Linked DNA regions of Homo sapiens: region 2 is linked to region 1. Evidence: fine-mapped expression QTL. A gene starts in region 1. The other region holds a variant in brackets. All regions are shown on one strand. Distances are between the middles of the regions. Region 1 holds the start of RUNX3 (RUNX family transcription factor 3). Region 2 overlaps RUNX3 (RUNX family transcription factor 3).

Region 1 (4,373 bases):
ACAAGAGTCCCTCATTCTCTGGAAACTTGTCTGTGAACCCATCGTAAGCGGAGAGGGAGAAATCAGGCGGAGGAACAAGCAAAGGGCACGGTGCAAACCGAAACCATTCGACAAATGGAATTTACCACCACCTGAAACAGCGGGTCATGGTCCCGCAACCTGCTCGAGGGCAGCACGTGTTGCCCGCCCCCGGCCAGGGCCCTACCTGGCCACGACGCGCTGCGCCTTCTCGGAGACGTTCCCGGAGGTGGGAGCGCCCAGGCTGGATCACTCGCTTTCCTCTAGTTCTGCTGCTCGTGCCAGCGCGTCCGAGGGCGCGCGGGCCTGGGTCCGCAATCGACAACTGCCAGGCGCAGGCTCTCTTAAAAGGTTCAGTAAGGGACCTTTGCCGTCCTTCCTTTCGACACGGCCTGAGGGCGTGCTGTGAGGTCCCGAGGTGGGTAGGGGCCAGCTCTCCCGGTGGTCGGGGTGAGTCCAGAGTCCTTCGCCCCTGGAGCGCACGCGGGGCTTGATTTCGTTTGGCAACGACGAAATGGCGCGCGCTGAGCAGGGGTCAGATCCATGATGAGATCTTGCGGCCACCGTCGGATCCTAAGCTTCTTTGCTTCCGAGGCTTGGAATTCATTGTTTTGCACCTGTCGAGAGCCGGAGGCAACGAAAATCTAGCCCCGTCTCCAAAGCGGCGGGGAGGCTCAGCACGCGTTCGTTCCCCAGAGTCTAGGGAGGTGTCTGGGGCGATAATTCGGAATGATTGTGGCTTGATCTTTCCCGTTGCCCTCCCAACTGTAGCCGGCCCCTAGGTCTGCTCGACAGACTTAGGAGGCGGGAGAGGAAGGGGTGATTTGCAGTGAAGCCCAGGAGAGGTTGGGCCACGCGGCTGGGAGTGGGAGCGGGGACCCGGAGCCGGGCGGGCAGGCAGTGCCTTGGCGAAGCTGTCCGCGGTCCCTGCGGCGCAGCCGGAGCGCACGGGCCCAAGAAGAAGTGGGGTTGGACCCGCAGAGGCCACTTTCCACCCGCATGGAGAAAGAAAATTCTCTCCTCTGAAAGCGAGGGCCCTTAGCTTTGCAGCCACTGCTGTTTTTCTTTTGCCACCGACGCGCGTACCGTTTCACGATGCAGGACCGTGGTTACATGCGTAAAGGAAAAAAAGAAAAACGCATTTTGCAGGCCTCGTCGTGTTTTTCAAAGAGCCACAGGCCGCCACAACGAAGAACGACGCCGCGAGGCCTGCAAGATCCTGAAACTTGTTTTGAGGGGAGAGCAGAGAGGAAAGGGGTTGTTGGCCCCAGGCTACTTAGGGTCCCTAGGAGACTCCCTTCCGCCTGTCCCCGGTTTGGCACAGGGGCCACCGAGGCTGGGACCAAAGCCGCGCAGGGCTGGGAGCAGCAAAGGCCGCCGGCCGGGCGTGGACGACGCGCAAAATCCCGTGTGGGGTGGAGGCTCTTGGGTCAGAATAATGTGCGGGACGAGGGAGGTGAGTAACCTCTTTGGGGCGGCTCCCAGTGCGGCGTCACCGGCCCTGAGACCCCGCGGCCCCCAGCCCGGGGTTGCAGAAGTCACAGGCCCGAAGCAGCAAGAGCTGGGGAAGCCCGGCCGCGGCCAGCGGGGAGGAGGAGCGAAGGGGTTGCGCCCCAGCGTCAGGGAGCTACGACCCGAGAGAGGGCGGCAAGGGCGCCTTCCGTGGGACCCGGACGTTCTAAGCAAATTTCTAGCATTTGCCCCGGGCTCCCAGAGCTCTCGGGGGCCCTGGGCTGTGGCACTGGGGCCTCCTCCGCGGGGTGGCGCCTTCCGCCCCTCCCCGTTGGGCGGCCTCCGGCAGGCCCCGTTCCTCCCCGCGAACGCCACCGAGGTGCCCGCGATGGGGGCTCCGCCGATTGGCTGTGCGACGCGTCGCTCCGCCAGCCCCGCCCCGCGGGCCCCGGGGGTACTAACCCCGCGCGGGCGGCCGCGGCCCCGCCACTTGATTCTGGAGGATTTGTTCTGGGGCTGCGGCCGCGGAGTCGGGGCGGCCGCGGGCGAGCTTCGGGGCGGGAGGCGGCGGCAGCGGCACAGCCCCGCGCGGGCCCCGCCGCGGCCCAGGCAGCCGGGACAGCCACGAGGGGCGGCCGCACGCGGGGCCGCGCGCCGAGGATGCGGGACTAGCCGGGCAGGCTGCGGGCGGCCGTCGGGCCAGCGAGGCCTCGCAGCGGGCGGGCCCTGGCGAGTAGTGGCCGGGCGCCGCCCCCTGCGCCCTGAGGCCCGGGCCCCGCCGCTTCTGCTTTCCCGCTTCTCGCGGCAGCGGCGGCCGAGGAGGCGCCCGCGCCGGCCGCCCCCGGGGGAAGCCGCGCCGTCTCCGCCTGCCCGGCGCCCTGACGGCCGCTGTTATGCGTATTCCCGTAGACCCAAGCACCAGCCGCCGCTTCACACCTCCCTCCCCGGCCTTCCCCTGCGGCGGCGGCGGCGGCAAGATGGGCGAGAACAGCGGCGCGCTGAGCGCGCAGGCGGCCGTGGGGCCCGGAGGGCGCGCCCGGCCCGAGGTGCGCTCGATGGTGGACGTGCTGGCGGACCACGCAGGCGAGCTCGTGCGCACCGACAGCCCCAACTTCCTCTGCTCCGTGCTGCCCTCGCACTGGCGCTGCAACAAGACGCTGCCCGTCGCCTTCAAGGTGAGTGCGGGACCCGGGGCGGGAGGGCGCCGGCCCTGGGGCTCCGGGCGTCTGAGCTGCGGGAGCCAGAGCCTCGGGAGCAGTGGGGATGGGAGGTGCCCGAGACGCCGCGGCGACACCCGGGCACCCGGTTCAGTCTGGCTGCGCGCTCGGCTCCGGGACCTCGGCGTTCCGTTTTGGATGCGCCCTGCAGGAATGACTTTTAACGGGGTTGCCCCGCTCCACCTGGGTTTTGGGGCGCCTTGCGTAGAGACGTTGGTGCGGAAATGGGCGGATGGGGTTTTGCGCCCCCCTAACCCGGATCGCTCAGATACAGCCCTGCGGGTAACGGAGAAGAGGATCCCGGGACAGGGGCAAGGACACCGCGGGTGGGGTGCGAACGGTGAAAGGGCCTACCCTCCGCCTCCAGCACCCCTCCTCCCGCGCCGCTTCGCAAAAGCTTCCTGCTCACACCCTCGGGCTTCCGAAATTTTACCGGACGGCGCTAGGCCGGGATCGGGGCACTGCTCTCCAGACGTTTGCTCGGGGATATTATGCGTCCCGAATGGCGAGTTGAGATTGGGGGACCCCTAACCCTGGCAGCCCCCAGCCATTTAGAGGACCTTTTTCTTTATGCCAGGGAGTAGGCGACTGTTTCATTTTCATTTTTTTAAGGGGGCAGCGAGATGAAACGAAAACGCCTCGGTTTTCCCCTAAACCTCTCACAGCTGCCGTGAGAAAAGGGCAGGGCAGGAAGGGCCGGCGGCTGGGGGTGGTGCTGCCCGAGGTGGCTGGAAGCTGAGGCCGTCCCTGCTCCCATTAAGACGACTCTAAATGGGAAAAAAAGGAAGAGTGGCTCTTTGAGGTCTCCCGGGTGACATCTTAAAATACCAGTGGGGGAAATCTCGCCGGGAGGGGCGGGAGGCCCGTGTGACTTTAATCGTCAGATCGGAGGTTTTACTGTCACTTGGAGCTTAAAAGGAGTCTTTGAAATTAAAAGAAGACAGGATGTTGACAGGAAATCTGGTCTTCTTAATCAGATCCCAAACATTTTCTCCTTGAAATTTTTACCATATGGATCCCCAGTCCCTGCACGCGGCGGCCACGTTTAAATAGTTGTGACTCTGTTTAAAGTCTGATTCTTTTTCAAAAGGCATCCGCCTCTCCGTGCTCCTGGGGGTGGGGGATTTGGGGGAGATGGTGTTTAGGGGGACATCGCCACCCCCATCCTGCAATTCCCGGCAGGTGCATCCTTCCATTATCAAAAGCCCCACTCTCACTTTAAAGGGGTTTTCTGGTGGCCTTTTTCAAAACACCAGTGAGTTTTGCATTCTGCATTTTCTCTGCATAACGAATTTAGGCTCTGCAGAGGCCAATAAACTGGGCCTGGTCCACATTTCAGGGCCAAATTTCATGCCCTAAACAGCTCTTGCATAAATTGAGTGGGGGTAGCAGCCCTGTTGTTATTATTGTTGTTACTCTTTCTCATTTGGAGACTTCGTTGCTAGGAGCATGTTGATTCCTCTTTCGCTGCAGCCGAAGACAACAGGGGAACTGCACCCCACATCATAGTGACTGAGCTGATTCACAGCTCTGGCTTAGATTTCATTGAAAGGATGATTTCTTGGGACACAGTTTATGTAAGCAGTTGATCTAGGATTTTGGTGTGGAAGCTCGAGATTCCATCTTCTTGTTTTCGTGATATTTGGGGGAAGGTCTTTATTGTTTTTAAGCCTCTTCTCCACCCTG
Region 2 (4,341 bases), 25 kb after region 1:
CTGGTGCCTGGCCCCAGGGATCTGCATACCAGGAGTTCACTGTGCCTGGGGAAATGGGGTTAACCCCATAGTGCCCCTATTAAAATTGGGGCATGACTTGTCCAAGGAGCCGTGACAGACTCGCCCCTGCCATGTACAGTTTCCCCACCCCTGCCCCACAGCCTGCGATTTTTCATCTGAAAGTGGATTGGGGCGGATGCCTCCACCCAGGGCTGGGATGACATTCAAATGACATTACTGTACTCACACAAACTTTGCACACTGTTAAGTGACATTCCAACCCTAGAGAGGCACATAGCATTCCTGGGAAAGGTCTCCCACCCTGCCCAGAGCATCCTCCCAAACAGGAGGAGCTGAGGTGGAAGGGAAGACCGAGCTGGGGTCTCCATCTCCACTGCCTAGACGGATACAGCAAGCACAGTTGCAGCCAGGCCTCAGGCAGGTCTTCTGGAGTATCGAGGTGCCTGGCGCATAGTAGCCGCTCACTAAACGGCTGCCGGCTGCATCTCTCCTCTGTTCTCTCAGTCAGTGAGCTGGGGACATGGGAGGCTGTGTGCACAGCCGGCCCTTGGGCTAAGTGGGGTGCCAAGGGTGCTTGGTGGCCGGGTGGACAGAGGCAGGCAGCTGGCTGCCGTCACGGACTGTGCCCATTCTTTCTCAATTCCCCAGAGCCTGGTTAGAACCCCTTGGCAGATGAATGAATTGAGAGGCCTAAGAGGTTCAGAGCCACCCTCGGGTCACACAGCCCATCTGTGACCAGGTCCACAGTCTCCACAGTACCTGCTCCCAAGAACTTTCTGTACTTCTGAGGGGACAGATAAAGGGGCCTGGAACAGGGCTGCCAACCGGTCTGCCTGCCCCACCCCCTTTTCCGGTGCCACGCTGAGGTGGGGGCCGACTGGGTCTCTCTACTGACATTGTTCCAGGCATAGTGCTGCAGCCAGGGGCTGGATGCAGGCCTTCAGTGTGAAGAGAGGACCCCTCCCCTTCTGGCCTGGGCTCAGGACTTTTGGCCTTGGTCCTGCTGAGACGCCAAGGTTGGGAGAAGCCCCAGGCCCAGCCTCTCTGAGCCCAGGAGCTAGTGCATTTGAGACTCTCAGCTCTCGAGCCCAGGAGTTGGAGGTCTGCTCTCAAGAGGTAGCGGAAGGAGCCCTGCACGCTGTGCTCACGCCCACCCCTGCCGCGTAGCTGCCTCTGCTTCTGCTACCCATGGGCCAGCATCTGTCGAGGTGCAGTAGCCTGAGAGCCAGCCTTTCTCTGCCATGGACAGAGCCAGGCCAGGGGATCGGGGCTCAGCGGGGGAGCCAGAATCCAGGAGGTGGGGTGAACAGTGGCTTCCTGTCCACCAGCCCCCATGGAAGGAGAGCCCACATCTGCCCATCCACTGCTGGGTGGGCACAGCTTGGGAATCAATGCCTGGCCCCACGGCAGGCACAGCTGCTGCTTCCATCCTGGGCTGGGAGGAAAGGAGCCCAGCCTGTGTGGGGCAGTGGCTGACTTCTGCTTCTCTGCCTGCTCCCTCCTGAGGCCTGGCCCAGTCCCTCGCTAGCCCCCCACAGCACTGGGCCACAGGCAGCCAGGCATCTCCATCCTCAGGCCCATCCCCTTTGGGTGAGAGAAAGGGCCTCGGATGACCAGGACAGGGCGAGCATGAACTCTGCAGTCAGCTGGACCAGGCTAGGAATTCAGGCTCTGCCAGGCATTGGCTGTATGATCTTAGACAAGTCACTTAAACTCAGCCTCAGTTTTCTCATCTGTGAAGTGGGGAGAAGGAGGTCCCTGACAAAGAGGGGTTGCTGGCAGACCTAGGCTTGGGAAGTCACTCTCACAGGCCCTCCTCCCTCTGCCCTCGGACTCCCTCCTGGGGATCCCCCTTGGGACACCCCACCACCACTTCCCTCGGTGCCTGTTAAGTGCTTTGACCCTCCAATATTGGTCACTGGCAAGCAGTGCAGAGAC[C/A]CCAGCACCTCCCATACCCCAGCCCCAGCCCCCAGCCGCAGCCGCCCACAATGGGGGCTTCTCACAGCTGAAAGGGCTCATTCAGCCACCATGCAGCAGCCCGGACAATCTGGAGAAGAAAATAAACATTTCTTTCCACTGTTGGGATTGGCCACTCGACAGTGCCCCGGGCAGCTCGGGTTTCCTGGGGCTGCGAGGCCGCAGGGTGGGGGTACAGGAGCTCCAAGGAAGCTGCTGGGGGGTCTGAGGGAGTGCTGAGGGCAGGTACTTCCCCCACCACCCCGGAGGAGGGGTGGTGGCCCTGAGGAAAGAGGCTGGAGGGGATGGTGGCAGGTCCAGGGAGGCCCAGCCCAGCGCCCTGCAGCCCGCGTGAGCTCTGAGGGGCACAGTCCTGCCGTTGTATCCTGCGGTCCCCATTTGTTTCCTTCGTCTTGAGAATGGGGTTCCCATCAGGCGGCCAGCACCCACTTCCACCCCACCCATCTCAGCTGTGCTGACGTGCCCAGCACCTGCAACAGGACCTCTCCCCCCGAGGGGCTCCCCAGATGAAAACTGGCAGCCAGGTGCCTCGGAGGCTCTCGGCCTCAAGGGGCCGGGACAGCCAAGTGACCTACTAGGGAACATCCCAGATGTCCCAGAAGGCCCCCGCCACCCAGACTGCTGTCCCCACATCTTCTTACCTTAAGCCAGGAGCATCACTCCGTTCGGATCCACGCCCAGGGCCAGAGTACGCTGCTGAGGGAAACATACCCCAGCTGACTTGGGAAGACCCCAAAGCCCCGAGAAGTTCCAAGTCCCAGCCGAAGTCACACACACCTCAGGCTCATAGCTCTCCGTCCTCAGCCAAGCCTCGGCGTGGCAGGCAGAGCCCACTCCGGCTAGCACCGGCCCTTATCCTTTGGTGGGTGACACAGAGGGGTTGCTGGGCTGGACAGACTGCACCTCTGGACCACTGCTGGGGGCTCATCCACCTCCCCCGGCTGCCAGAGTAGAAGGGAGGCCCTGCACCAGGGCCTCAACTTGGCAGGGCCCTGAATGAGCCAGTTCTCCTGGGTACCCAGAGTAAGAGACACCACAGCCACAGTGGCCTTGCAAAGCCTCATGGACCCCTGCTCTGTGCCCAGTGCCATTCTAAGTACTCGATGTGAATTAACTGAATCCTGATGAACTGTTATCGTCTCATGTTTTATATGGGGAAACTGATGCGCAGAGAGGTTAAGTGACTTGCCCAAGGACACAAAGCTAGTAAGTGTCCAAACCAGGATAACTGTCCGGCTCCAGAAGCCACACAGTAAGCCTTGATCCTGTGCTGCCTCAAAGACGGGACAGCTCCCTCTCAAGTACGTGTTGGGGCTCAGGACCAGAGGCCCTAGGATTGTGTGCCAGGTCCAATGTGCTGTGTGACCCTGAGGGAAGTGCCTCACCCTGTCTGGGCCTCAGTTTCCCCATCAAGGGTGTTAGACTCAATCCCTGAGCCCCTTTGAATGCTGAGGTTTTGGGGGTCTGTGATGACAAAAGTTGGGGACAGAGGATGGAACACCCTTGCCTTGGAGCCCATTGAGAAGCCACATTCCTGGGGGAGCAGGGGCAGAGTCTGGGCTGGACACTGTGACCAGGTTGGGGTCTGGGTCCCCAAGTTTGTCTGACTGCTGTCTCACTTTGCTGCCAAGGCAGGTTAGGGTGGCATCCAGTCACTGTGTGGCCACGAGTCGGCTCCAGAGACACAGGCCCAGGGTGAGGTGGAGGCCAGAGCTCCTGTGAACTCAGTGCCCACAACCCAGGTGTGAGCGCACAGAACCTCCGCGTGCTGCACCTGGGCAGGAGAGGCACGTGTGTCCCCAGCAGAGGCCTTGTGATGAGAACCAGTCCTTTCTCTGCCACAGAGACTCAGTCTTGCTCTCTCTCTGCCTCCATTTTCTTGTCTTCAAAAGCGGGTTCCAACTCCCAGTCTCACACGGTCATTGGAGCCCTTTACACATCCACGGCCTTCCCAGCTGTTAACATGGGCCGGTGGGGAGAGGAACCTGCCTGGGCAGGGCTGCTGGGAGGCCTGAGCTGACTCTGCCCTCAGCCCCACCACCGCATCCTAGGCCTCTCCTCTGCGAGGCTGGGAAGGAGGATTTAAAAAGAAGAATAGACCCCCTCCTCTGTTCTGTTGCTGCTGTGGGGGGGCTCCCATGGCCCCTCTTGGCCCGGGGCACGCTCCAACCAGCTTCCCGGCAGGTCTGTGTTCGGAGTCCTGGCGGGGGAGGCCCCGGGCAGCCTAGGGCAGGAAGAGGAGAGCCAGGTCTAGAACTAGGGGTCCCCCAGATGGGCCTTGGGAACCAGAGCCCAAGGTCATTCTTCAGGAAGCCCTCCTGGGGTTGTCTCGAGCTGGAACTG

What was found.
Region 2: its variant is fine-mapped to the expression of RUNX3 in testis (GTEx, PIP above 0.99).

Annotation. Positions count from the first base shown.
Region 1 is chr1:24,927,859-24,932,231 of GRCh38, reverse strand. RUNX3 (RUNX family transcription factor 3) reads left to right here and starts at 1,956. Exons shown (of 5, transcript NM_004350.3): 1 at 1,956-2,645. The coding sequence starts at 2,364. RUNX3-AS1 (RUNX3 antisense RNA 1) reads right to left here and starts at 1,775. Exons shown (of 4, transcript NR_183341.1): 1 at 206-1,775. RefSeq lists enhancers at 253-842, 2,282-3,015, 3,188-3,367, 3,016-3,750 and silencers at 1,608-2,077, 2,278-2,717.
Region 2 is chr1:24,902,690-24,907,030 of GRCh38, reverse strand. The region is part of intron 4 of RUNX3 (RUNX family transcription factor 3); the gene reads left to right. Among named protein-coding and RNA genes, the nearest start is that of MIR6731, 15 kb to the left of the region's middle. The variant C/A (reference allele first, on the strand shown) is at 1,960.